Linked DNA regions of Homo sapiens: all the other regions are linked to region 1. The links come from fine-mapping of genetic effects on gene expression. A gene starts in region 1. Each other region holds a variant in brackets. All regions are shown on one strand. Distances are between the middles of the regions.

Region 1 (5,102 bases):
TTATAAGTACATGGTGTGTATATTTATGGGATACATGAGATTTTTTTTTTTTGAGACGGAGTCTCTCCCTGTTGCTCAGGAGTGCAGTGGTGCGATCTCTGCTCACTGCAACCCATACCTCCCAGGTTCCAGCGATTCTCCTGAGTAGCTGAGATTACAGGCATGCACCACCACGCCCTGCTAATTTTTATATTTTTAGTAGAGATGGAGTTTCGCCATGTTGGCTAGGCTGGTCTCGAACTTCTGGCCTCAAGTAATCCGCCTGCCTCGGCCTCCCAAAGTGCTGGGATTACAGCACCACACCCGGCCTCACTTCATTCCTTTTTATGGCTGAATAATATTCAATGATATGGAGAAACCTCATTTTACTTATCTGTTCATCTATTGATGAACATTTGGGTTGTTTCCACTTTTTGCTATTATAAATAATGCTGCTTTGAACATTTGTGTACAAATTTTTGCATGGACTCTTATATACATTTAAAAATATGGCCAGGTGTGGTGGCTCATGCCTGTAATCCCAGCACTTTGGGAGGCCAAGGTGGGTGGATCACTTGAACCCAGGAGTTCAAGAGCAGCCTGGGCAACATGGTGAAACCCATCTCTACAGAAAAATGCAAAAATTAGCTGGGCATGGTGGGGAACACCTGTAGTCCCAGCAAGTCGGAAGGCTGAGGTGGGAGGATTGCTTGAGCCTGGGAAGTGGAGGTTGCAGTGAGCCGTGATTTCACCACTGCATTCCAGCCTGGGTGACAGAGTGAGACCCTGTCTCAAAACACAAATAAACAAACCAAAACAAATTTTATTACACATTTTATTACAGAAGGAGTAGGATTAAAAATAAAACAAAATAAAAAGTACATTTAATTGATTTTCTTTAAAATATTCAGCTGGGGTTTAAATTGAAATTACATAGAAATTATATATTAGTTTGGATAGACTTGACATCTTTATAAAATGAAATTGCCTCATCCAGGAACATGTATTGTGTCTTCATTTATTCAGATGATCTTTTTTTGTTTTTGAGACGGAGTCTTGCTCTGTCGCCCAGGCTGGAATGCAGTGGCACCATCTCAGCTCACTGCAACCTCTGCCTCTCAGGTTCAAGCAGTTCTCCTCCTCCTCAGCCTCCTGAGTAGCTGAGATTACAGGCGCGTGTCACCATGCCTGGCTAATTTTTGTATTTTCAGTAGAGATGGGGTTTCACCATGTTGGCCAGGCTGGTCTCAAACTCCTGACCTCAGGTGATACACCCACTTCGGCCTCCCAAAGTGCTGGGATTACGAGCATGAGCCACCGCGCCTGGCCTATTGTAATTTTTTTTTTTCAGACAACAGAAAAGTATAAAGGAGAAAGTAACAAACCATTAGTTACCTCCCCAGAGATAACCATTGATGACATTTCCTCCCCAACATTTTTCCCCCTATGGATACACATACATTTTTTCAAGATCTTGTTTCCTTTGATATGTCATTTTAGTGGCTTGAACTTATTTCTGGAACAATATATGGGTAAAGTCTATGCATATATGTATCTATGTATATATCTATCTATGGAAAACAAGTAGATATAGACAGTAAAATAAAGACAGAGACAAGACAGCGGTTGGAGAGATGAAAGGAGAGAAAGTCATAGACAAGGAGAGACATATGGGGAGAGGAAGACACAGAGAGAGCTGTGGGCACATAAGGGCAGAAAGATAAACACAGAGAGCCATGGAGAGATGAAAGTATTGGGCTGGGGCCAGGCATGGTGGCTCAACGCCTGTAATCCCAGCACTTTGGGAGGCCGAGGAGGGCCGATTGCTTGAGCTCAGAAGTTGGAGACCAACCTGGCAACATGACGAAACCCCATCTCTACAAAAATACAAAAATTAGCCAGGCGTGGTGGTGGGCACCTGTAGTCCCAGCTACTTGGCAGGCTGAGGCATGAGAATTGGTTGAACCCTGGAGGTGGAGATTGCAGTGAGCTGAGATCCGGCCACTGTCCTCCAGCCTGGAGGACACAGCGAGACACTGTCAGAAAAAAAAAAACACAAAGAGACAAGGAGAGGATGGAAAGGAGCATTTATGGAGCTCCTACTGAATGTCATTCTAAACCTCCAAGGTCACTTTGAGGGAGGCTGTCAGTAGTAACCCCTTTACGCCGCTGAGAGCCTGAGCCTTAGAATGGCCAACTGAGCTGTCCATGGTCACATCACCTAGATTGAACCCATCTCCCTGGCGCGGGCCGGGCCCACTGCGGGTGATCCATTAACTATTTATCTAATGAACAAACTAAAGTCCATCTCCTCCCCCAGGAAGAGAGATGAGGACCAGACCCCCATTCCACTCCACTGAGTCAATTTTTCTTGCCTGTTTTCCTGTCTACTAAGGTAACAGTAAGGTCGGTTGCCCCAGCAACTGCCCTCCGACTGCCATGGCAACCGCCAGCTCTCCACCTTGCCCTTTGGGCATCTCCATGGCGACGGGAGGTCTGGTGGGGCTGCCAGCTCCCCAGGCTGCGCCTGCGTCGGTCGGGTGGGTGGGGTGGGGGCGGGGGGGGGGGGGCCTGGTTCCGGGCGTGCGCAGCCGCAGAGCGCCGCAGCCTCGCCAGCTCGCCCCGGCACTGCGCACTTGCCAGCCAGTCCGCCCGTCCGGAGCCCGGCTCGCTGGGGCAGCATGGCGGGGTCGCCGCTGCTCTGGGGGCCGCGGGCCGGGGGCGTCGGCCTTTTGGTGCTGCTGCTGCTCGGCCTGTTTCGGCCGCCCCCCGCGCTCTGCGCGCGGCCGGTAAAGGTGCGACCCCAGTCCGGCGAGGGGTGGGGGTTGGGGGAGGATGCCACCGGCGAGGGTTGGGGTTGGGGCTGCGCCGCCTCACCCCCGCCCGAGCCGGCTCCCGGGACGTGCGGAGAGATCGACGAGGGTGGCCCGGGCTCCGGCCGCCGGTCCGCGCCCAGGCCACGCCGGCACACCTGAGACCTGACTTGGTCTCTGCCTGTGCGGGTGGCGTTGTCCGGGGCGCCGCCGGTAACCGTGCCCTGCCCACCTCTCCGTGCCCGGTGCCTGTGACGCTGTCCACGGCACTAAGGCGCTTTAAGAAAGGGCGCGCGCGCATCAGTGTGTGTGCGTGTGATGTGAGGAGAGCGGTGTGGAGGTGTCGTGTCCTTGAAAGTGTGTGTTCTTTGGTTTGAGCGCTTCCAAGTGTCCTAGAAAGGTGCCGTGGTGCGTCTGGGTGTGTAGTGTGTGTGATACCGGGATACTTCTGTGCGCGATTCTTTTGTGCGTCCGATTGTTTTCTCAGTGACACCGTGTGGATATTTGTGAATCCTTATTATGTGTGTTGGCTTGGCCTATGGGCGTGTCTCTCTCTCTCTCTCTCTGTCTCTCTCTCTCTGTGTGTGTGTGTGTGTGTGTGTGTGTGTGTGTGTGTGTGTGATTTCGTTTGTGTTTGAGAGGGAATGGTCTTCGCATCTCCGTGTGCACATTCCATAGTGGTTCTGTTGGACCAAGTGCCTGGGATTTCGTTTGCGTGTTCCTGAGACTGTTTCTCTCCGTTTCTTTGTGGAGCTGTGTCATCCTGAGGAGAGGAGCCATGATGTCTCTCTGCTGCATTGTGTCTTTAAGGATGGTGCATGTCCTTGCACCTGGGTGGCTTGGCGATTGTAACTGCAGGAGCAGCTGCGGATGTGAACGTGTGCAGGTCCTTGCATGTGGCTGTGGCAGTGTTGGGCTGTATATGTGACATCTCCAGGCCTGTCAGTCCTCATGAGTGTGTGTGAGGCTGTGATTGCTGGTGAGTGTGATACCCCGGGGTGACTGAGGAGTGGTGGGCGCCAGCAAGGGCACTTGGAGAGGCATCCTCCTCTAGCTCTTCAATACTGTCTGCATCAAAGATGGGAATTAAAAAAAACTGTTACCTTATATCCGTGTAACAATGTGTTTAATATATATGTACAATGTAAAGAATGATGACAAAATAACTCTCTCGTGTAGCAGTCACTCAGCTTAATAAATAGAGCCTGACCAAGAGTTAGAAGCCCCTGCGTGCCCCTCGCCATGGCAGCCCCTGTCCCCACACAGTCCTTATTCTGTATTTTCTGTCCATTGATCCCTTACTTTTGTTTGTAGCTTATCACATATGTGTAGCTCTCAAAAAAAATCCATTGTTTAGTTTTTCCTGCTTTTGAACATCATTGAAACGGAATCATACTGGGTGACTGGTTCCTCGTAGTCACTAGGGGTCACTAGGAAGTCCTCAGGGTGTCTAGTAGTCTCAGGCAGTCTGCAGTGAAATTCTGGAACTTGACGTTTTTTTTTCCCTTGGCTCTATTCTGGTCACGAGATTCATCCAAGTTGATGCATGTGGCTGTAATTCATTTATTTTTATTGCTGCATAATATTACATCCTATGAGGACATCATGATTTATATATGTATTCTCAATTTGTCAGTGGACATTGGACTGTTTCCAGGCTTTTCTTTCTCCCCCGCCCTTTTATGCTATTACGAACAGTGCTGCTGTCATCTTTCACGAACTTGTGACCAGTAGCGTATGTGCCAAAGCTGCTCTGGGGAGTGACATCCCAGGAGTGGGTCATAGGATATGTGCATCTTTTTAGATATTGTCAAACCGCTCTGCAAAATTACTTTGCCAGTTTAATTCTCACCAGCATAGTATGAGAGTTCCCATTTTTCTGCATTCATATCAACACTTCATATTATCAGACTTTTTGATTTGGGTCAATCTTTTGGTTATATTATGCATAGTATCTCCCTGGCATTTTAATTTGCTTTCCCCTGATTACTAATGAGGTTTTTAATTTTATTTTATGTTTGTTAGAGACAGGGTCTTCCTCTGTCATGCACGCTGGAGTGCAGTGGTGCGATCTGGGCTCACTGCAACCTTGAGCTTCTGGACTCAGGTGATCCTCCCACCTCATCTTCCCAAGTAGCTGGGACTATGGGCTTGTGCCCCGCTCATTTTTTTTGGTTTTATTTTTTGTAGAGACAGGGTCTCGCCATTTTGACCAGGCTGGTCTCAAACTCCTGGCCTCAAGCGATCTTCCTGCCTTGGCCTCCCAAAGTGCTGGGATTACAGGCATGAACCACTACACGTGGCCCAATT
Region 2 (5,102 bases), 310 kb after region 1:
CAATTTAATAACACAAGATGACTGAGGCCGGGCACAGTGGCTCACACCTGTAATCCCAGTACTTCGGGAGGCCAAGCCAGGAGGACTGTTTGAGCTCAGGAGCTTGAGACCAGCCTGGGCAACATGGCGAAACCCCATCTCTACTAAAAATACAAAAGTTAGCCAGGCACGGTGGCACATGCCTGTAGTCCCAGCTACTCAGGAGACTGAGGCAGGAAGATCGCTTGAGTCTGGGAGGTGGAGGTTGCAGTGAGCCGAGATCACACCATAGCACTCTGGCCTGGGTGACAGAGCCAGACCCTGTTTTAAAAAAAATATGACAGAATCTTACATGAAGGGATCTCAGAGCCCTGATCCTGGAGGTTCCAGGGGCTTCTTGCCACCCTGGGCCACCTCATGTAACCTTCACAGGAGACTTTGTGATGGAGAAGGAGGAGGAGGAAGAAAAATGAACCCTCCCCACCTGAGAGTGCAGGCTCAGAGAAGGGCATGACCTTTCCAGAGCCTCAGGGGGTTTGTCATTCAGTCTGACTTACCCCTGGAAGGGCACCGTTGAGAGATCCCACCCACAGGGATACATCTGTGTCTGTGGATCCCCCATCAACCCCTCTAGTGCCCAGTGCCCCTCTAGTGCCCTTTCCTTACCCACAGAGACCACAAGCTGTAGAATGAAGCGGAGGGGATGCTGGCGGAGAAAGGCGATCACCACCCACAGGCTGAGTGGTCCCCACAGGCAAGCTGTGATGGTTTCCATGCACACTGTGAAGTTGTCACCCCTGCAGGAGAAAGCATGAGGGGACACTGGTATCGGTGTGCTCTTCCTACAGGTTAGCCCATTAGTGCTCCCCAACTCACCACCCCCCGAAAACCAATGCCAGTCTCCATTGACAGAGGCAAACACTTACAGGATGTATCGGCTGTCTCCCTTGGCATACTCTTTCCCTGAAGAAAAGAAGAGAGAGATATGAAGAATAAAGGCAGTGAAAGGAACACACACTTGTGAGAGCTGGGGGTCCCTGCAAGAAGACAGACTTCATAACCTTCCCATGCGTCTGCTTCCTCATCCGTGAAATGGGGTAACTGTTTGGATTCTAGTGGTTTATTTCTCTAAAACAAGGTAATATGTGTAAAGCCTGACACAAAACAGTGTGGCTGTGATTGGTACTCAAGAAGTGTGTGTGGTATAAAAGGAAGCAGGTGTAGATGATGGAGTGAGTGAAGTAGCCAATGAGAGAGAGAGAATGTAGGTGAACAGATGAGTGAATACAAGAGTGAGCAGAGAATCAGAAAGAAAAAGACCGCCGGGCACGATGGCTCATGCCTGTAATCCCAACACTTTGGGAGGCTGAGGTGGGATGATGGCTTGCATAAAGGAGTTCAAGACCAGTCTGAACAATATAGTGAGACCCCCAACTCTATAAAACATACAAAAATTAGCTGGACGTGGTGGCACGTGCCTACAGTCCCAGGCTGCAGTGGGAGGATGTCTTGAGCCCAGGAGGTTGAGGCTGCAGTGAGCTATGATAGCACCACAGTGCTCAGCCTGGACAACAGGGTAAGACCCTGTCTCAAAAAAAAAAAAAAAAAAGAAAGAAAGAAAAAGATCATCCAATATAAAATAGGCAGAAGACTTGAATAGGTTCTTCACAAAGAGGATTTCTAAATGGCCAATAAGTATATGAAAGATGTTCAAACTTCCATTAGTCACTAAGGAAAAGCAAATTAAAACCATAATGAGATATCACTCACATCTACTGGAATGACTAAAATTTAAGAAACATCTGACCAGCCGGGCACAATGGCTCATGCCTGTAATGTTTTTTTTTTTTTTTTTTTTTTTTGAGACGGAGCCTTGCTCTTATCGCTCAGGCTGGAGTGTGCAGTGGCGCAATCTCAGCTCACCACAACCTCCGCCTCCCAGGTCCCAGAGATTCTCCTGCCTCAGCCTCCTGAGTAGCTGGGATTACAGGCACCTGCCACCACGCCCAGCTAATTTTTAGACTTTTAGTAGAGACGGGGTTTCACTATGTTGGCCAGACTGGTCTCAAACTCCTGACCTCAGGTGATCTGCCCGCCTTCGCCTCACAAAGTGCTGGGATTACAGGCATGAGCCACTCTGCCCGGCCTTGTTTATAATGGCAGAAGATTGAGGGAAAATGCCCATCAATACTACACAAGTCAAGCAACTGTACAATGTCCATGCTTTGAAAGCTCTTTATGAAATCATGAGGAGTGACCTCATTAAAAAAAGCAGCTGGGTGCGGTGGCTCATGCTTGTAATCCTAGCACTTTGGGAGGCTGAGGTGGGCAGATCACTTGAAGCCAGGAGTTGGAGAACAGCCTGGGCAACAAAGCAAGACGCCATCTCTTAAAAAAAAAAGTTGTTAAAAAAAAAATAACTTGGTGGGGTGGCACATGCCTATAATCCCAGCTACTAGGGAGGCTGAGGCAGGAGGATTGCTTGATTGCCCAGGAGTTCAAGGTTGCAGTGAGCTATAATCATGCCACTGCACTCTAGCCTGGGTGACAGAGCGAGACCCCGTCTCAAAAAAGAAAATGGCTTCTTTGGTTTTCTTGTAAGGAAAGAAAGAAAAAGAGAAAAGATTAGAAGTATATATAGCATATTACCATTTGTGTAAAAAGGGAAAAGTGCAAATAATGATAATAATAGTGAACAGTTACATGGCAACCACTGTTTGCCAAACACTGTTCTAAGTATCTTACATATAGTTGGTTATT[A/G]CTATTATCCTCCTTTTACAATTGAGCAAATTGAGACTTACGTGTGTAAATAAACTGAAAAGAAACATAAACAACTATCAACAGTGCCTAACAGCGTTTGGGGAAACTTAGTGGATAGAAAGCAGATTTTCACTGCAAATCTCTTTAAATGGTTTTTTGACCCACGTGAATATACATGCAACAAAAAAGTTAAATAAGGCTGGGCACGGTGGTGCGCACCTGTCATCCCAGAATTTTGGGAGGCTGAGGTGGAAGGATTGCTTGAGCCCAGGAGTTAAAGAACAGCCTGAGCAACATAGCAAGACCTTGTCTCTACAAAAAAGTGAAAATATTAGCCAGGCATAAAGGTGTGCACCTATAGTATAGTCCCAGCTACTGGGGAGGCTGAGGCAAGACGATCGCTTGAACCCAGGAGTTGGAGGTTGCAGTGAGCAATCATCATACCACTGCACTCCAGCCTGGGCAACAGAGCAAGACCTTGTCTCAAAAATAAGTTATCTACCAGTTTTAGAGAAGGGCAAAAAACAAAAAGAATAATAATAACAATACATAATAATTTTTTTTTTGAGACAAAGTCTCACTCTGTTGCCCAGGCTGGAGTGCAATGGCATGGTCTTGGCTCACTGCAACCTCCGCCTCCCAGGTTCAAGCAATTCTCCTGCCTCAGCCTCCCTAGTAGCTGGGATTACAGGCGTGTGCCACCACACCCGGCTAATTTTTGTATTTTTAGTAGAGATGGGGTTTCATCATCTTGGCCTGGCTGGTCTTCAACTCCCGACCTCGTGATCTGCCTGCCTCGGCCTCCCAAAGTGCTGGGATTACAGGCTTGAGCCACCGCGCCTGGCTAATTTTTGTATTTTTAGTAGAGATGGGGTTTTGCCATGTTGACCAGGCTGGTCTCAAATTCCTGACCTCAAGTGATCCACCTGCCTCGGCCTCCCAAAGTGCTGGGATTACAAGCGTGAGCCACTGTGCCCGGCCTATAATAAATTTTTTAAAAGATTAAATAAAAATTTAAAATAAATCAATGGAAGAAGAATAGGTGGATAGGTAAACATGCAAGCCGATCCCTGCCCAGCAAATCCCATCCCACAGCATATGAAAGAAATCAGGACTCACAGAGTTGAGATAAGAAGGCTTGGTCTCCAAGCAGGTCTTCGTAGTAGAGAACGAACCAGCCCTCGATCACCAGGTGAATGAACCCACACACTGCAAACCAGCACAGGGACAGTCGCCGCCAAGTCCCCAATGGGACAACCGCAGCACGACCTGACAACAGCCATGTGGTCACGACTAAGACCCCTGTGACAGAGAAGAGGCCAGCCAGTATATGCCAGGTGGGGCGGTCATTAGGTACAAAGTTGTCCAGTCTTAGGTGCTGAGGCCAGTATGGGTGCAAGGGGCCCGCGTTGGTAGTCATGTCTTTGTGGGCTGATGGCTGCGTGTGTATAGGCAGGAAGTTAAAAAAAAAAAAAAAAAAGGAACAGAAAAACCTGGACAAATAGAAAGTACAGAATGAGATAATAAAATCAAATTCAAATAGTTTATTATCATGAGAAATGTAAATGGACCGAATTTACCAGTTAACAGACAGGATTGTAACACTTCTAATTACATTCCGTTTTTTTTTTTTTTTTTCAGACGGAGTCTTGCTCTGTCACCCAGGCTGGAGTGGAGTGGTGCGACCTCGGCTCACTGCAACCTCTGCCTTCCGGGTTCAAACGATTCTCCTGCCTCAGCCTCCCGAGTAGCTGGGACTACAGGTGCCTGCCACCACGCCCAGCTAATTTTTTGTATTTTTAGTAGAGACGGGGTTTCACCGTGTTAGCCAGGATGGTCTTGATCTCCTGACCTCACGATCCGCCCGCCTCAGCCTCCCAAAGTGCTGGGATTACAGGCGTGAGCCACTGCGCCCGGCCTACATTCTGTTTTAAGACCATGACTAAAGGCCAGGCACCGTGGCAGGTAATTCCAGTGCTTTGGGAGGCTGATGCAGGAGCAGCACCTGAGGCCAGGAATTCAAGTCCGGCCTGGGCAACACAGCGAAACTGTCTCTAAAAAAATAAGAAAATCAGTCAGGTGTGGTGACAAAGGCCTGTAGTCCCAGCTAGTAGGTAGGCTGAGGCAGGAGGATCGCTTTGAGCCCAGGACTTCAAGGCTGAAGTGAGCAGTGACCACATCACTGCCCTCCAGTCTGAGACTCTGCCTCTAAAAAAGAAGGCCGGGCGCGGTGGCTCACGCCTGTAATCCCAGCACTTTGGGAGGCCAAGACGAGTGGACCACTTGAGCTCAGGAGTTCAAGACCAGCCCGGCCAACATGGCAAAACCCCGTCTCTACTAAAAATACAAAAATTAGCCAGGTG
Region 3 (5,102 bases), 260 kb before region 1:
TGTGGTGGCTCACGCTTGTAATCCTAGCACTCTGGAAGACTGAGACAGGAAGATTACTTGAGCCCAGTGGTTCAAGATTAGCCTGGGCTGGCCGGGCTCAGCGGCTCAAGCCTGTAATCCCAGGGAAGAGAATTGCTTGAACCCAGGAGGTGGAGGTTGCAGTGAGCTGAGGTCGTGCCATTGCACTCCAGCCTGGGTGACAAGAGCAAAGTTCCGTCTCAAAAAAAATATAGCCTGGGCAACATAGTGAGACCTCAAGACCCCATCTCTATTAAAAGAAAACAAAGTATCCAGCTTAAAAACATAATACTGGCCAGGCACAGTGGCTCACACCTGTAATCCCAGCACTTTGGGAGGCCGAGGTCAGATCGAGACCATCCTGGCCAACATGGTGAAACCCCGTCTCTAATACAAAAATTAGCCAGGCATGGTGGTGGGCACCTGTAATCCCAGCTACTTGGGAGGCTGAGGCAGGAGAATGGCTTGAACCCAGGAGGCGGAGGTTGCAGTGAGCCGAGATGGCGCCACTGCACTCCAGCCTGGGTGACAGAGACTCCCTCTAAAAAACAAAACAAAAAAACCATAATACTAAGTGAAAAGAAACAGAATGAGGAAACACAGACCTGCGTGAGTTAGGATTGCAGTTCCCAAACTGTGTTGAGGCACCTCAGAGTGCCATAGTGAATTCTCAGGGACGCTGTAAGATGCTTTAAATTGTTTGAGGGAAATATATGGGTACTCAACATGTCAGATACCTCATAAACTATTCAAGGGAGTTCAAAGTTTCAAAGTTACATTGAACTACTTTTCTTTCAATGACATCTTTTTGCAAAGCTGGGTTTACAGCAGTTTCTGTGATAAAAAGCAAACACCTGACAAAAATCAGCATGGATAAAGTGATTTAGGTGATATCAGACAATCTGATTAAGGTTTGGGAAGGTGTGCAGAGTCTAACAAACATGCATCCATTAATAAGCAATTGTAGTTATTTAACAATTTTTTTTTCTATCTATGTGTTGTCGATTTTCTAAACTGCTACTATTTTTTTAGGACATAAATAGGTATTATATTTTGGTCCAAGCAGGTGGTGGGGGCAGGGCAAGTTAAAAAAAAAATTGGTCCAAGAAACAGAAGTGTTAGGTATTTGTTTTGAAAAAAAATAACATATGCATACACTCATGAAACCATCACCATAATCAAGATAGTGGACATATCATCATCTCCAAGTTTCCTCATGCCCCTTTGTAATTCCCTTCCTAACTGCCCCACCTCATCCCCAAGCAACCACGGATCTGCTTTGTTACTATAGCATACAAAATATAACAAAGTATACAAAATATAACAAAGTGTACAAAATATACTTTGTTATATTTTGCCTTTTTTTTTTTTTTTTTTTTTTTGAGATGGAGTGTTGCTCTGTTGCCCAGGCTGGAGTGCAATGGCGTGGTCTCGCTCACTGCAACCTCCGCCTCCCGGGTTCAAGCGATTCTCCTGCCTCAGCCTCCCGAGTAGCTGGGACTACAGGCAAGTGCCACCACGCCTGGCTAATTTTTTGTAGAGACGGGGTTTCACCGTGTTAGCCAGGATGGTCTCGATCTACTGACCTCGTGATCCACCCGCCTCAGCCTCCCAAAGTGCTGGGATTACAGGCGTGAGCCACCGCGCCTGGCATATTTTGCCTTTTTAAGAGTTTTATATAAGTGCATCTTAGTATGAACTCTTCTAAATTCCTTCTTTTTTTTTTTTTTTTTTTTTTTTTTTTTTGAGACGGAGTCTCGCTCTGTCGCCCAGGTCGGACTGCGGACTGCAGTGGCGCAACCTCGGCTCACTGCAAGCTCCGCTTCCCGGGTTCACGCCATTCTCCTGCCTCAGCCTCCCGAGTAGCTGGGACTACAGGCGCCCGCCACCGCGCCCGGCTAATTTTTTGTATTTTTAGTAGAGACGGGGTTTCACCTTGTTAGCCAGGATGGTCTCGATCTCCTGACCTCATGATCCACCCGCCTCGGCCTCCCAAAGTGCTGGGATTACAGGCGTGAGCCACCGCGCCCGGCCAATTCCTTCTTTCTTTTCTTTATTTTTGAGACGGAGTCTCGCTCTGTCGCCCAGGCTGGAGTGCAGTGGTGCGATCTCGGCTCACTGCAACCTCCACCTCCCGGTTTCAAGTGATTCT[C/T]TTGCCTCAGCCTCTGAAGTAGCTGGGATTACAGACGTGCACCATCACGCCCAGCTAATTTTTGTATTTTTGGTAGAGATGGGGTTTTGCCATGTTGGCCAGGCTGGTCTTGAACTCCTGAGCTCAAGTGATCCACCCGCCTCAGCCTCCCAAAGTGCTGGAATTACAAGCATGAGCCACCAAGACTAGCTCTCTCTAAGTTCTTTCACTCTATAAAAGTTATTGGAAGCCGGGCGCAGTGGCTCACACCTATAACCCCAGCACTTTGGGAGGCCGAGGCGGGCGGATCACGAGGTCAGGAGATTGAGGCTATCCTGGCTAACACGGTGAAACCCCGCCTCTACTAAAAATACAAAAAAAAGTTAGCTGGGCATGGTGGCGGGCGCCACTTGGGAGGCTGCGGCAGGAGAATGGCGTGAACCTGGGAGGCAGAGGTTGCAGTGAGCCGAGATCGCGCCACCGCACTTCAGTGTGGGTGACAGAGCGAGACTCCGTCTCAAAAAAAAAAAAGGCCTGGATTACGGTGGCTCACACCTGTAATCCCAGCACTTTGAGAGGCCGAAGCAGGTGAATCACCTGAGGTCAGGAGTTCAACACCAGCCTAGCCAATGTGGTGAAACTCTGCCCATGTTAAAAATATAAAAATTAGCTGGGCATGGTGGCGGGTGCCTGTAGTCCCAGCCACTTGGGAGGCTGAGGCAGGAGAATTGCTTGAACCCAGGAGGCGGAGGTTGCAGTGAGCTGAGATCGTGCCATTGCTCCAGCCTGGGTGACAAGAGCAAAAAACTCCATCTCAAAAAAAAAAATTATTGGAGATTCACCAGGTTTGTTCCATGTTTCAATAGGTCATTCCTTTTCTTATAGTTGTAAGGTAAGATGTACATATCATAGAACCAACCTCTTCAAAGTGTGCAATTCAGTGGTTTTTAGTACATTCACAAGATTGTGCAGACATCAACACTATCTAATTCAAGAAGCTTTATTTTGGGCCGGGTGTGGTGGCCATGTCTGTATTCCCAACACTTTGGGAGGCACAGCCGGGTGGATCACCTGAGGTCAGGAGTTCCGGACCAGCCTGGCCAACATGATGAAATCCCGTTTCTACTAGAAATACATAATATAGCCGGGCGCGGTGGCAGGCGCCTGTAATCCCAGTTACTCGGAAGGCTGAGGCAGGTGAATCGCTTGAACCTGGGAGGCAGAGGTTGCAGTGAGCCAAGTTCACACCACTGCACTCCAGGCTGGACAGAGTCAGACTCCTGTCTCAAAAAAAAAAACCTTTATTCCTTTATTTCATTACCTCTAAAGGAAACCCCATAGCCATTACCAGTCACTATTCCACCCATCCCCTAGCCTTTAGCTCCTAAAAACCACGAATGTATTTTCTGTCTCTATGAAGTTGCCTATCTTGGTTTTTCATATAAATTAATCATAAAAATATGTGGCCTATTGTGTCTGGCTTATTTCATATAGCATAATATTTTCAAGGTTCATCCATGTTGTACCACACGTATAAGTACAGTACTTCTTTTTTTCTCTTCTTTTCTTTTTTTTTTTTTTTTTGAGATAAGGTTTTGCTCTGTCACCCAGGCTGGAATGCAGTGGCCCGATCTCAGCTCATTGCAACCTCCACCTCCTAGGCTCAAGCGATCTTCCTGCCATAGCCTCCTGAGTAGGTGGGACTACAGGCATGCACCACCATGGCCAGCTACTTTTTTGTAGAGATGGGGTCTCACTATATTGCCTGGCCAACATGGCGAAACTCTGTGTGTACTAAAAATACAATAATTAGTGGGGCGTGGTGGCACATGCCTGTAATTCCAGCTACGTAGGAGGCAGAGGCACAAGAATCGCTTGAACCCAGGAGGCTGAGGTTGTAGTGAGCTGAGATCACACCACTGCACTCCAGCCTGGGTAACAGAGTGAGACTCTGTCTCAAAAAAAACTTTGTCTAGTAATTCCAACATCTGAGCTTCCTCAGTGGAAGTTTTTATTTACCGGTTTTTTTCTTCTTTTTTTCTTTCCTGTGTATGGGCTATGCTTTCTAGTTTATTTATTTTTTGAGATGGAGCCTCCCTCTGTCACCCAGGCTGGAGTGCAGTGGCATGATCTTGCCTCACTGCAGCTTCCGCCTCCTGAGTTCAAGTGATTCTGCCACCTCAGCCTCTTGAGTAGCTGGGATTACAGGCGTGCGCCACCACGCCCAGCTAATTTTTGTATTTTTAGTAGAGACAGAGTTTCACCATGTTGGCCAGGCTGGTCTCGAACTCCTGACCTCAGGTGATCCACCCACCTTGGCCTCCCAAAGTGCTGAGATTACAAGCGTGAGCCACTGTGTCTGGCCTACTTTCTAGTTTCTTTGCATTTTTTAATCTGGACATTTTAAATAATGTGGCAACTCTGAAATTCAGATTGTCTCCTTCCCAGGGTTTGTTGTGGCTGCTGTTTGTTTTTATTATCACTGCTGTTTAGTGACTTCTTTTTGTTTGTTTGTTTGTTTCTGAGATAAGGTCTCCCTCTTGTTGTCTAGGCTGGATTGTAGTGCATGATCATAGCTTACTGCACCTCAAACTCCTGGGTTCAAGCCATCTTCCCATGTCAGCCTCCCAAAGGCATGAGCTACTATGAGCCTGTTTAGCAACTTTTCTGAACTAATTCTATAAAGTGTGTATTCTTTGTTGTGTGTGGCCACTGAAGGCCCTGCTTCATTAGCTTACTGACCAGATAACGGTTAGGCAAAGGTTCCCTTAAATGCCTTGAACCATTACTTCTTCCAGCATTTGCCTAATGTGTGTCCATGTATGTTGGAGAATACCTAGAACACTCCCTCAGGTAGTTCACAACTGTGCCTTAGCCTTCACTTTTTCCTTGCCCAAAGCCTGAAGGTCCCCCACAAATAAGAGCTTAAGGCCTTCTTGGTTCTCTTCGTTGT
Region 4 (5,102 bases), 430 kb before region 1:
GCCGGGAACGAACGCAGAGGCCCAAAAAGTGGGAGATCCCGCGGGTTGCGTAGGCGGTGGAACGGTAGCTAGAGAGAGAGAACAGCCAATGGAGAGCCACGCGTGGGATGACGACAATGGCTGCAGCGAGCCAATGGGGAGGCTTGTGAGCGTGCACTGCGGCTTCGAAGGGGTGGTGCCAAGGTGGAGCTAGCCAATACGAAGGCTAAAAGGAGACCAAGAGGCGGGTGTGTAGGGAGCCGAGCCAATGGAGGTGGAGGCTGAAGGCGGGAGCGAGGACGAGAGCTGGCGGATAGCCAATGAGGGAGCCAGGGTGAAGGCGTAGAGACCTCAAAGGACAGTACTAGTATGGGATGAGCCAATGCCGAGGCTAGATAGTGCAGCGGGACGGAGGGAGGACTTGGAGGCAAGATGGGGAAAAAAGCAGAGCCGACGGGGGCAGTGTAGGTGGTGTGAAGGGAGGCATGAGTAGCCAATAAGGAGGCTGGAGAGGAGGACGCTGTGTAGACAGAGTCTGAGGTATTGGGTGGCCGGACAGCAGAACCATAGAACGCAGGCAGCCATTAGGAAAAATGTGCTTCTCAGGGATGGGGTTACCCTCTCCCTAACCCTCCGTGACTCCCCATTGCCCCAGGAATACCCAGAGCCCCTGAAGGCCTAGACCACACCTTGGTGTGTGAACTAGGAAAGTGAAAATGACTGTCCTGTTGCAGTTAGTTACTTACTGGGTCCTCCCTGCCCAACTACAACCTTTTCTTGAGCAGTGCCACAAGCCAAGAATGCCCCTGATTGTTAGCCGCAAGCACTCTCCAGGACTTGATACTATTGTTGAATGAATGGCCGAATAGGAAATTTAACTTTCTGAAGGATTCACTTTTTTAAATTTCAGCTCAGCAAACACTGACCTGACTGTGTGCTACCAGAAGTTGATTGGGCATATGGGTAGCTTCTGACTAATGGAATCACAATCAAAGCCCTGTCCTTCTTGCCCAACCTGACACTCCACACCCCACAGGGGCCTCACCTCCCTTCTTTCTGTCCCCCCATCTCTGCTTCTACTGTTCCCTCTCCCAAGAGTGCTGTTCCTTCTGCTGCTTCCATCTAGTAAACTCCTTTCGCTCTCCCTTTGGGGTCTCACCTTCTGTGGGAACTCAACTGCAGCTTTTGTCCGCTGAACACATCCATTCATACATTCCTTCTCCATCCTGGGAAGATTTACTGAACACCTACTGAGTGCCAGGTTCTGAGCATGCTGTTATCTCATTAGAACCTCACAGCATCCTAGGAGGGAGGTGATCCTTCCAGCAGCCCCTCTCCCCAGGTCTCCATGTTCAGGATGTCCATGAGTTAGAAATGAATATGTTCAGCTGCAAGTAACAGAAAAATCATAAAATAATGGGGGCTTAAGCAAGACAGAACTTTATTTTTTTCTCACCTAAAAGTTCAAGCTGGCAAATAGTCCAGGGACTCCTTCCTGCCCACCTGGTTTGGGCATTGTCTGTCCCGATCTGGCTCCAAGACTCTCAGTCTTCAACAAATCCTTTTGGCTGTCTATTAAAAATATTTACCAAATCCATCCTCTTCTCACCACCTCCACTGCCAGCACTATCACCAGTCACCTAGACTACTGCAGTAGCCAGCTCCTTGCTGGTCCCCTGCTTCCACATTCAGGCCCTAGACCCCATTGTACACTCAGCATTCAGGGGCTTCCTGTTAAATCCTAACACGGTTTGTGTTTCTCCTCTGCTTGCAACCCTGTCATGCCTTCCTCCTCACTCAGCGTTGAAGCCAAAGTCCTTACCATGGCCTACAAGGTCCTGCGTGGTCTAACCTCCGAGTCCCCTTTCTGACCTCACCTCCAGCTTCTCTTCTTGCTCTCTCCACACTAACCACACCAGCCCCCTTGTAGACCTTGAACAAATCAGGTACATTCCCACCTCAGGACCTTTGCCCTGGCTGTTTCCTTTGGAGTTCCTCAGATATCTAGCTGGCTCCCTCCCTCATCTCCTTCAAGTCTTTGTCAGAGGCCCCTGTCTCTGGGGACTTTTCCTGACCCGTTTAATCTTGCCTACTCACCCCCAACTCCCAGCCCTCCCAGTCTCCTTCCCGAGAAGCCCTCCATGAGAGAGGATATAGTCCAGTATAGAGGGGAGGTAGCGACCTCTACCCCTCTCTGCCCTCCTGACCCCAGCCCCCATTCTGCAAGGATCTTGG[C/T]TTTCAGCAGCCGTAGCATTTCCCTCTCACACCCTGGGCCTGCCCAAGGGGCCAGCTCACATTCTCGGCCACCATCCTCACTTCGTTTGCCTCCTATATCTCTGGCCACTCTCTTTCATGGAGTGAGTGACAGTAAGGGACAGATGGTCTGGGGAAGGTATAAGGAGAATGCAGCCCACACCTCTGATCCTGAGAGAGAAAACTAGCCCCCTTTTCCAGGAGGGGGACAGGTGCTGGGGCAGGGAACAATGCCTCTGCTGATAGAACTGGCCTGGTTTATAATTACGCAGGAGGTGTAGGGAACATTCCGACCCAAGTCTGCAGGGAGCAAGGGGTTATTAACTATGGGAACATCAGTGCAAGGGATCATTAACCTTAGGACCATCACTGCAAGGGGTCATTAACCTTGGGGCCATCACTAGAATCAGCTCCCCAGGACTCCTTCCTGACATGCATGCTCCTCACCCCCTCCCTTGCTCCCTCCCACATGCCGTGACATCTGTTAAACACCTGCTGTTCACAGGGTCCCTGCAGGCCTCCAAGCAGGGGACCTCATCCCACCTTGGTGCCTCCCCTGGCTGTCCAACACACCCAAGCCATTTTTGGGTCTCAGATGTGTCCCACCAACTCAGAAGCCTCAACCAGCGAAAGTTTTGTTTTGAACTAATGGTGGGGAGGGTTGGGTGTTTTTTTTTTTTTTTAATTGTTGTTGGCTGATTTTTTTAAGGTCTTTTTTTTTCTATTCTTTTTTTTTTTTTTTCTTGTCTTCACAAAGCCAGGCCATCAGGCCCATTCTGGGCTTTTCCAGAAGGGTGAGTCTGAGTTGAGGAAAGAGGCCCTCCTTTTTACGAGGGCTTAGAAGGTTGGGGGAGGAAAGGGGGCAAAGGGGTGAAGGGGTGGATCTTGGCCACCAGATTTGTACCATGTAAATAAAAAGCCCTTTCCAATTTCTCTTCCCCAGGTCTGAAGCCAGTCTTGTAGAGGGCTGGAGTGGTTGTTGGACGACTAGAACCCTGGGCTTTGCAGGGTGCTGGGAGCTGGAAGTCTTCACCATGGCCTGTCAGGAGAAGCCCCTGGGGGCTGGTCTACCATGCTGACCAGTGGTTGAATAGAGTGCCTGCTGAGGTCAAGAGATGCAGCCGCCAATTCCTGGACAACCTAAAAGCCTCACAAGCTTCAAGTCTCCAAGGACTCTCCAAATCCCAGGATCTCCCTGCCATCACATCCTAGAATTTAAAACCTGAGAACATCAAGTTCAGGAAAGCTTGGGGATTTCAAAGCCCAGCACCAAAGAAAGCGGGACCCACACTCGCCAGCTCTGTGATCTTGGGCAAGTTGCTTGACTACTTATACCTCCGTTTCCCTCATCTGTATAACAGGAATACAATAATGATGAGATGGAGCTCAAGGGGCCATGGTGAGGATTGAACATGATCACTTGTGAGACATGTTCAGCACTGTATCTGACCCATGGAAAATTCAAGATAAACATCAGCTACTGAGATGATGGCGGATATTTGGAATCCTAAATCCTTGGAAACTGGGGCTTTTTGAAGTAAAAGACCCCAAAGGCTGAGGGCCTCAGAAGCATCAGGCCATGATGTTCCTGAAACAAGAGGGTCAGGGTCCCAATGGGCCTCTGGGGTTCATCGTGAGGATGGATGCATTAATATTGGGGACCTGCTAGGGACCTTCCCAGTGGGACAGTGGCTGGGTCAGGGCACTCAAGCCCTAAAACGTGATGAGGCGAGACTTTTCTCTCTTTCCTCATTCAGTAACTGTCAGTAGATTCTGGGAGCCAGGGATTCTCCGACTCTTCAAGTCCATGAATTTTAGGGGATGACAGTGGGCTCTCCGCTTTCTCCTCCATGAAGTAACTTACATGCCCCTCACCCTCTGTGGGAGGGGTGTTGCAGGGGGTGCAGAACTCCCCTCGCCGGGTAGTTCAAGCAATGGGGACCATATCAATTCCATCTATAGGGAAACTGAGGCCTGGAGTAGGGCGAGGCCTCTGGGAACCCAGCCCTATTCTGTCTCTTTCCCTGGCATTTCCCATCCACACATAGAGCTTCAGATTCTCTTTCTTTCCCCAGAGACCCTCAAATATCCTCTCACTCACAGAATGGTGTCTCTGCCTGCCTCGGGTTGGCCCTGTGATTTATTTTAGTTCTTTTCCCTTGTTTTTTTTTTTTCAAACTCTATACACTTTTGTTTTAAAAACTGTGGTTTCTCATGAGCCCTATTATCTCATTGATACCTCTCACCTCTGTGGTGAGGGGAAGAAATCATATTTTCAGATGACTCGTAAAGGGCAAAGAAAAAAACCCAAAATTTCAAAATTTCCGTTTAAGTCTCATAATCAAGAAAAGGAGAAACACAGAGAGAGAGAAAAAAAAAACTATGAGAACCCCTCCCCACCCCGTGATTATCAGCGCACACACTCATCGAAAAAAATTTGGATTATTAGAAGAGAGAGGTCTGCGGCTTCCACACCGTACAGCGTGGTTTTTCTTCTCGGTATAAAAGCAAAGTTGTTTTTGATACGTGACAGTTTCCCACAAGCCAGGCTGATCCTTTTCTGTCAGTCCACTTCACCAAGGTGAGTGTCCCTGCTCTCCCCTACCAGATGTGGGCCCCATTGGAGGAGATGGCAGGGAGGTAGGCACGGCGGGGGGGTCAGGGGCCCTCTGGTACAGTGGGATGTACCCAGCTACCGTGATTCCAGCCAGGTAAGGTCTTTAAAAAAATAATAGAATAAATGGCAGAAGACTTAAAGGTGAAGTACTTAATGCATGGGCAGGGGCAAAAATAAATGAATTCATCAATTGATACGTAGATGGATAGGATTTTTAAAATATGTCAGCTGCCAGTCTTTATGGATTTCAGAG
Region 5 (5,102 bases), 63 kb after region 1:
CATCCCTCATCTCTTCAGATCTGTGCTCAAGACACTTCTCAGTCACACTTTCCGGGACCGCCTCATTAGACATCAGAAGCTGTCCTAGCAATTTTTTTTTTCAAGTCAGAGTCTCGCTCTGTCACCCAGGAAGGAGTGCAGTGGTGCAATCTCAGCTCACTGCAACCTCTGCCTCCAGGTTCAAGCAATTCTGGTGCCTCAGCCTCCCAAGTAGCTGGGACTACAGGCATGCGCCACCACAGCCAGCTAATTTTTGTATTTTTAGTAGACACGGGGTTTTGCCATGTTGGCCAGGCTGGTCTCAAACTCCTGACCTCAGTGATCCACCTACCTCGGCCTCCCAAAGTGCTGGGATTACAGGCGTGAGCCACTGTGTCCAACCTGCCCCAACAGTTTTTATCTGCATTCCCTCTTTTCCGTGTTTTCTTTTTCTCCAAACCATTTACCAACCTGTAACATACTTAATATTTTACCTACTTAGTTTTATTTATTTTCTTTCTCTCCCACTAGAATGGCAACTCCACCAACAGGGGTATGCTTATCTCCTTTGCTCAATGCTGTCTCTCCAGTGCCTGGAACAGGGCCTGGCACACAGGTGGTTAACATATGTATTTTAGTTGACTGAATGGTGGAGGGGGGGCAGAAACAGGAAATCTGACCTTGTCCCACCTAACCTGCCACAAGCTATGCTTCAATTGAGATGATTTGGCTTATTTCTTTATTTATTTTGTGGAGGTGGGTGGTCTCACTATGTTGCCCAGGCTGGTCTCGAATTCTTTGATCTACTAGATCCAAAGGTAGAAAGTGCTAAATACCCTGAGAGTGAGACTAGAGAAGGCTCTCCTGAAAGAGGTAGTATCACCTGGTGCTGGTCCTGGAAGGTCTGATGGGAATAAGAGATCCTGGGATTCTGCGAGGCCCAGGAATGGAGAAAACAGCAGGCAGCAGCTGGAGGAGTGAGAAAAGTTAGGAAAGGATGAAGACAATGGCATCACTGACAAGGAGAAATCTGTCAGGGGCCTTGAATCCCGAGGTGATGACCCTAGATTCGGTGCTCAGAGGCGTCATACCCTGGTCATAGGCCTCCGACCGAACAGCTCAGAGATCTCACACCCTACATAAACACCCATGCATGGCGCCAATACAGTAACGAAGACCCCGTATTCATTGAGAGGTTATGCATTTATTAGGCCAACTTTGATGACATACAGACATGTAGGTTTGGTCCCAAACCTGTCTTGGGTCCCCCCTCAGCAGGATGTGTGAAGTGCCTAAGTCCTCAGTCTTTGGAGATCTCTGGGCCTGGGTGGGGGTTTGCAGGAAGGAAAGGAGAGGGCGACATCAAGGGGGACAGAATGGAGGAGGTCCAGCCTCCATCACGAGGAGATGTAGTTGGACACCTCAATCAGATTTCTGTCGGGGTCTCGGAAGTAGATGGACATGATAGGCCCTTTTGCCCCTGTTCTGGGGACTGGCCCCTCCTCAATAGGGACATCACAAGCCTGAAGTGGGAAGAAAAGACAAAAGTCGTTCGTCAAAATGTGTGTGTGAGACCAAAATTTAATGCCTTTTTTTTTTTTTTGTGACAGAGTCTCGCTCCGTCACCCAGGCTGGAGTGCAGTGGTGAGATCTCAGCTCACTGCAACCTCCGCTGCCTCCTAGGCTCAAGCAATTCTCCCACCTCAGCCTCCTGAGTAGCTGGGATTACAGGCGCATGCCACCATGCCCAGCTATTTTTCATAGAGACGAGGTCTTGCTGTGCTGCCCAGGCTGGTCTCGAACTCCTGACCTCAAGTGATCCGCCCGCCTCAGCCTCCTAAAGTGCTGGAATTATAGGCATGAACCACTGCGCCTGGCCTGTAAAATTTAATTCCTTATAGTGGCCTAGAAGACCTTAGAACACCGCTGTATCTTTCTGACCTCATCTCCTACCATCCTCCCCTCCATCACTCCGTTCCAGCCACTTATCAGCTAGATGGCCTTGGGCACAGTACCTAACTACCCTGTACCTCGATCTCCTCATCTGTAAAATGGGAAGGATAATAGTACCTAGTATTATCTAGTAAATGGCAGAACCAGAATTCGAACCTAGGCAGTCTGGGTCAACGACCATACTCTTAACCCCTATGCTTCACCCATTTTACTTCCAAACCAGTCTTTTTCACTGACACTTCCCAAAGAAGGAGTCTAGGTTATTTGCACAGAATATATATAAGACCTCAATCCGTGTTCTGCAAAAGGGAAACTAAAACCCCTTTTATTTATTTATTGTAGAGATGGGGCCTTGCTCTGTCACACTGACTAGAATGGAGTGGTGCGATCACAGCTCACTACAGCCTCAACCTGGGCTCAAACGATCCTCCCACCTCTTAGCCTCCCAAGTAGCTGAGACTACAGGCACACACCGCCACGTCTGGCTAATTTTTTTTTGTATTTTATGTAGACACAGGGTCTCGCCATGTTACCCAGG[C/T]TGGTCTCAAATTCCTGGGTTCAAGTGATCCTCCCTCCTTGGCCTCCTAAAGCACTGGGATTACAGGCATGAGCCACTGTGCCCCAGCCTTATTTTAATTTTTTAGAGACAGGGTCTTGCTGTATCACCCAGGCTGGAGTGCAGTGGCGTGATCATAGCTCACTGTAGCCTCCACCTCCTGGGCTCAAGTGATCCTCCCACTTCACCCTCTTGAATAGCTAGGATTACGGGCATGCACTACCATGCCTGGCTACTCTGTTTATTTTTTTTAAGAGATGGGATCTCACTATGTTGCCCAGGCTGGTCTGGAACTCCTGGCCCAAATGATCCTGCCACCTCAGCCTCCCAAAGTGCTGGGATTACAGGCGTGAGTGACCGTGCCCAACCAATGCCTCTTCTAGATGACATCATTTTAAGTATTACAGAGACACTGGATTAAATAACAACAAATCAGAAATTATTCCCTCTCCAATCTTCTTTCAGTCCTTCTTTTTACACATAGAAGGTGGATGCTAACAAGTTCTTAGTATCTCTTTAACCACCTGCCATATCTCCCTTTGTAATGTCAGGGCCAGGGAGTACAGGGAACGGAAGTGGCTAGAATCTAATGACATTGTTATGCTTTCATAGCTGTTGGTTTTTACAGTTACTTTTCCTTTATGCCAAGATATAATGGGTTTTTCATGTACTTGGATGAACGTTTTCTTTTTATATAAATGTATTTAGGGCTGGGCACGTGGCTCATGCCTGTAATGGCCAGCACTTTGGGAGGCCGAGGTGGGCGGAGCACTTGAGGTCAGGAGTTTGAGACCAGCCTGGCCAACGTGGTGAAACCCTGTCTCTACTAAAACTACAAAAATTAGCCAGGTGTGGTGGCACGCACCTGTAGTACCAGCAACTTGGGAGGCTGAGGCAGGAGAATCGCTTGAACCCAGGAGGTGGAGGTTGCAGTGAGCCGAGATCAAGCCACTATACTACAGCCTGGGTAACAGAGCAAGACTCTGTCTCAAAAAAAAAAAAAAAAAGTATTTCAGTGCATAAATGTAGGTTTGTTTGTTTGTTTGTTTGTTTTACAATGGGAACGCACAGTTTCCTTTTTAAACACATTTATTTACATGAAAGAATTGTCAGTCAAAATAGTACATAACTGTGTGCAGACATTATCTGGTTGTGGTAAAACTTGTTACCTCTCTGGGTCATTCTTCTGTTTTCACTGCGTTTGCAGCAGCTTTTGCAAAAAGAAGAGAAGTCCCACTCACCTTGAGGTGCTGGATCATTTCCTCCAAAGGCACCTCTGTGATCAGACATATGTCCAGGGAGCCAGGAACTGGGTGAGCGGCTTTGGGTTCAAATTCCTTTCCCACCTCGTGGAGGTTAAATTTCTGGTCTCCAAAACACAGTGCTTTCCGGTCTTCCTACTTGGTGGGGAGGGGCAGAGAAAACAGCCTAGAATTAAACCTCCAAGATGAGTGTGAGATGAAGCCTTTCCACCTATCCCAACAAGGTTTAAAAAAAATAAAAACTAGAATGGGGCTACTACACAACAGCCCTTTGCCCCACCCAAGGCTCATTCCCTAGAGGCAAGTGTACGAGTTTATTTCTCCTTGAAATTATTTCCATATCTCCAAATAGTGTTTATACCACTCAAGGCAGAGATAGCAATTTGCCTACCCAGTATACATTTCCCCTTTATTTCTTATAAACACAACAGAAATTTCAGTGGGGTCAACCGTGTACCCAACTTTAAAAACCTACATTTCCCAGCACGTCCGGAGGCCACGTTAGCTGGACCAGGCAATGAGATGGGGGCAGAGGTGTGGATGGGGCTTCTGGGAACCTCCCAACCCTACTGCGCTGGCCCTTATTGCTCATTCACTTCCTCTTGCTTCCCAGCCACTGCCCATGACCTGACTAACTACCTCTGGACTGGTTGTTCAGTGAAACGAAAAGAAAACTCTTGTCTTGTTTAACCCACAGTTAGTTGAGTTTTCTCCTACATGCCTCCAAAGTCCCTAACTGATGCACCACTGTTTGTTTGTTTATTTATTTATTTATTTATTATTATTTGAGACAGAGTCTTGCTCTGTTGCCCAGGCTGGAGTGCAGTGGCACCATTTTGGCTTACCGCAACCTCCACATCCCTGGTTCAGGTGATTCTCGTGCCTCAGCCTCTGGAGTAGCTGGGACTACAGGCACACGCCACCATGCCCAGCTAATTTTTATATTTTTAGTAGAGATGGGGTTTTGCTATGTTGGCCAGGCTGGTCTCAAACTCCTGACCTAAGGTGATCTGCCCACCTCAGCCTCCCAAAGTGCTGAGATTACAGGTGTGAGTCACTGTGCCTGGCGTCTTTTTTTTTTTTTTTTTGAGACAGAGTCTTGCTCTGTCGCCCAGCCTTCAGTGCAGTGATCACGGCTCACTGCAGCCTCAACCTCCCAGACTCAAGTGATCCTGCAACCTCAGCCTCTGAGTAGCAGGGACCACAGGCACACCCCACCACGCCTGGCTAATTTTTTTTTATTTTTTGTAGAGACCGGGTCTCCCCGTGTTGCCCAGGCTGGTCTTGAACTCCTGGCTCAAGTGTTCCCCGCCTCGGCCTCCCAAAGTGCTGGGATTACAGATGTGAGCCAG

Alleles and levels. Alleles are on the strand shown, and positions count from the first base shown. SD is a standard deviation of normalised expression in the study named. Not every link is listed here.
In carriers of allele A in region 2, the expression in esophagus mucosa of the gene that starts at base 2,583 in region 1 tends to be lower than with G alone (large effect, 1.1 SD a copy in GTEx).

What was found.
Region 2: its variant is fine-mapped to the expression of PCSK1N in esophagus mucosa (GTEx, PIP above 0.99). The same link has a PIP of 0.9 or more in lung.
Region 3: its variant is fine-mapped to the expression of PCSK1N in whole blood (TOPMed, PIP above 0.99).
Region 4: its variant is fine-mapped to the expression of PCSK1N in whole blood (TOPMed, PIP above 0.99). The same link has a PIP of 0.9 or more in lung.
Region 5: its variant is fine-mapped to the expression of PCSK1N in whole blood (TOPMed, PIP above 0.99).

Annotation. Positions count from the first base shown.
Region 1 is chrX:48,833,091-48,838,192 of GRCh38, reverse strand. It overlaps PCSK1N (proprotein convertase subtilisin/kexin type 1 inhibitor), which reads left to right and starts at 2,583. Exons shown (of 3, transcript NM_013271.5): 1 at 2,583-2,774. The coding sequence starts at 2,661.
Region 2 is chrX:48,522,829-48,527,930 of GRCh38, reverse strand. It overlaps EBP (EBP cholestenol delta-isomerase), which reads right to left. Exons shown (of 5, transcript NM_006579.3): 2 at 3,859-4,232; 3 at 906-942; 4 at 646-776. The coding sequence starts at 4,159. Among named protein-coding and RNA genes, the nearest start is that of EBP, 3.6 kb to the right of the region's middle. The variant A/G (reference allele first, on the strand shown) is at 2,740.
Region 3 is chrX:49,088,418-49,093,519 of GRCh38, reverse strand. It overlaps a transcript of WDR45 not described here. Among named protein-coding and RNA genes, the nearest start is that of WDR45, 11 kb to the right of the region's middle. The variant C/T (reference allele first, on the strand shown) is at 2,171.
Region 4 is chrX:49,264,372-49,269,473 of GRCh38, reverse strand. It overlaps FOXP3 (forkhead box P3), which reads left to right and starts at 4,764. Exons shown (of 12, transcript NM_014009.4): 1 at 4,764-4,813. FLICR (FOXP3 regulating long intergenic non-coding RNA) reads left to right here and starts at 2,999. Exons shown (of 2, transcript NR_147988.1): 1 at 2,999-3,026; 2 at 3,176-3,253. RefSeq lists enhancers at 346-395, 93-592. The variant C/T (reference allele first, on the strand shown) is at 2,215.
Region 5 is chrX:48,769,710-48,774,811 of GRCh38, reverse strand. It overlaps GLOD5 (glyoxalase domain containing 5), which reads right to left. Exons shown (of 4, transcript NM_001080489.3): 3 at 3,730-3,885; 4 at 1,164-1,502. The coding sequence ends at 1,377. Among named protein-coding and RNA genes, the nearest start is that of GLOD5, 11 kb to the right of the region's middle. The variant C/T (reference allele first, on the strand shown) is at 2,471.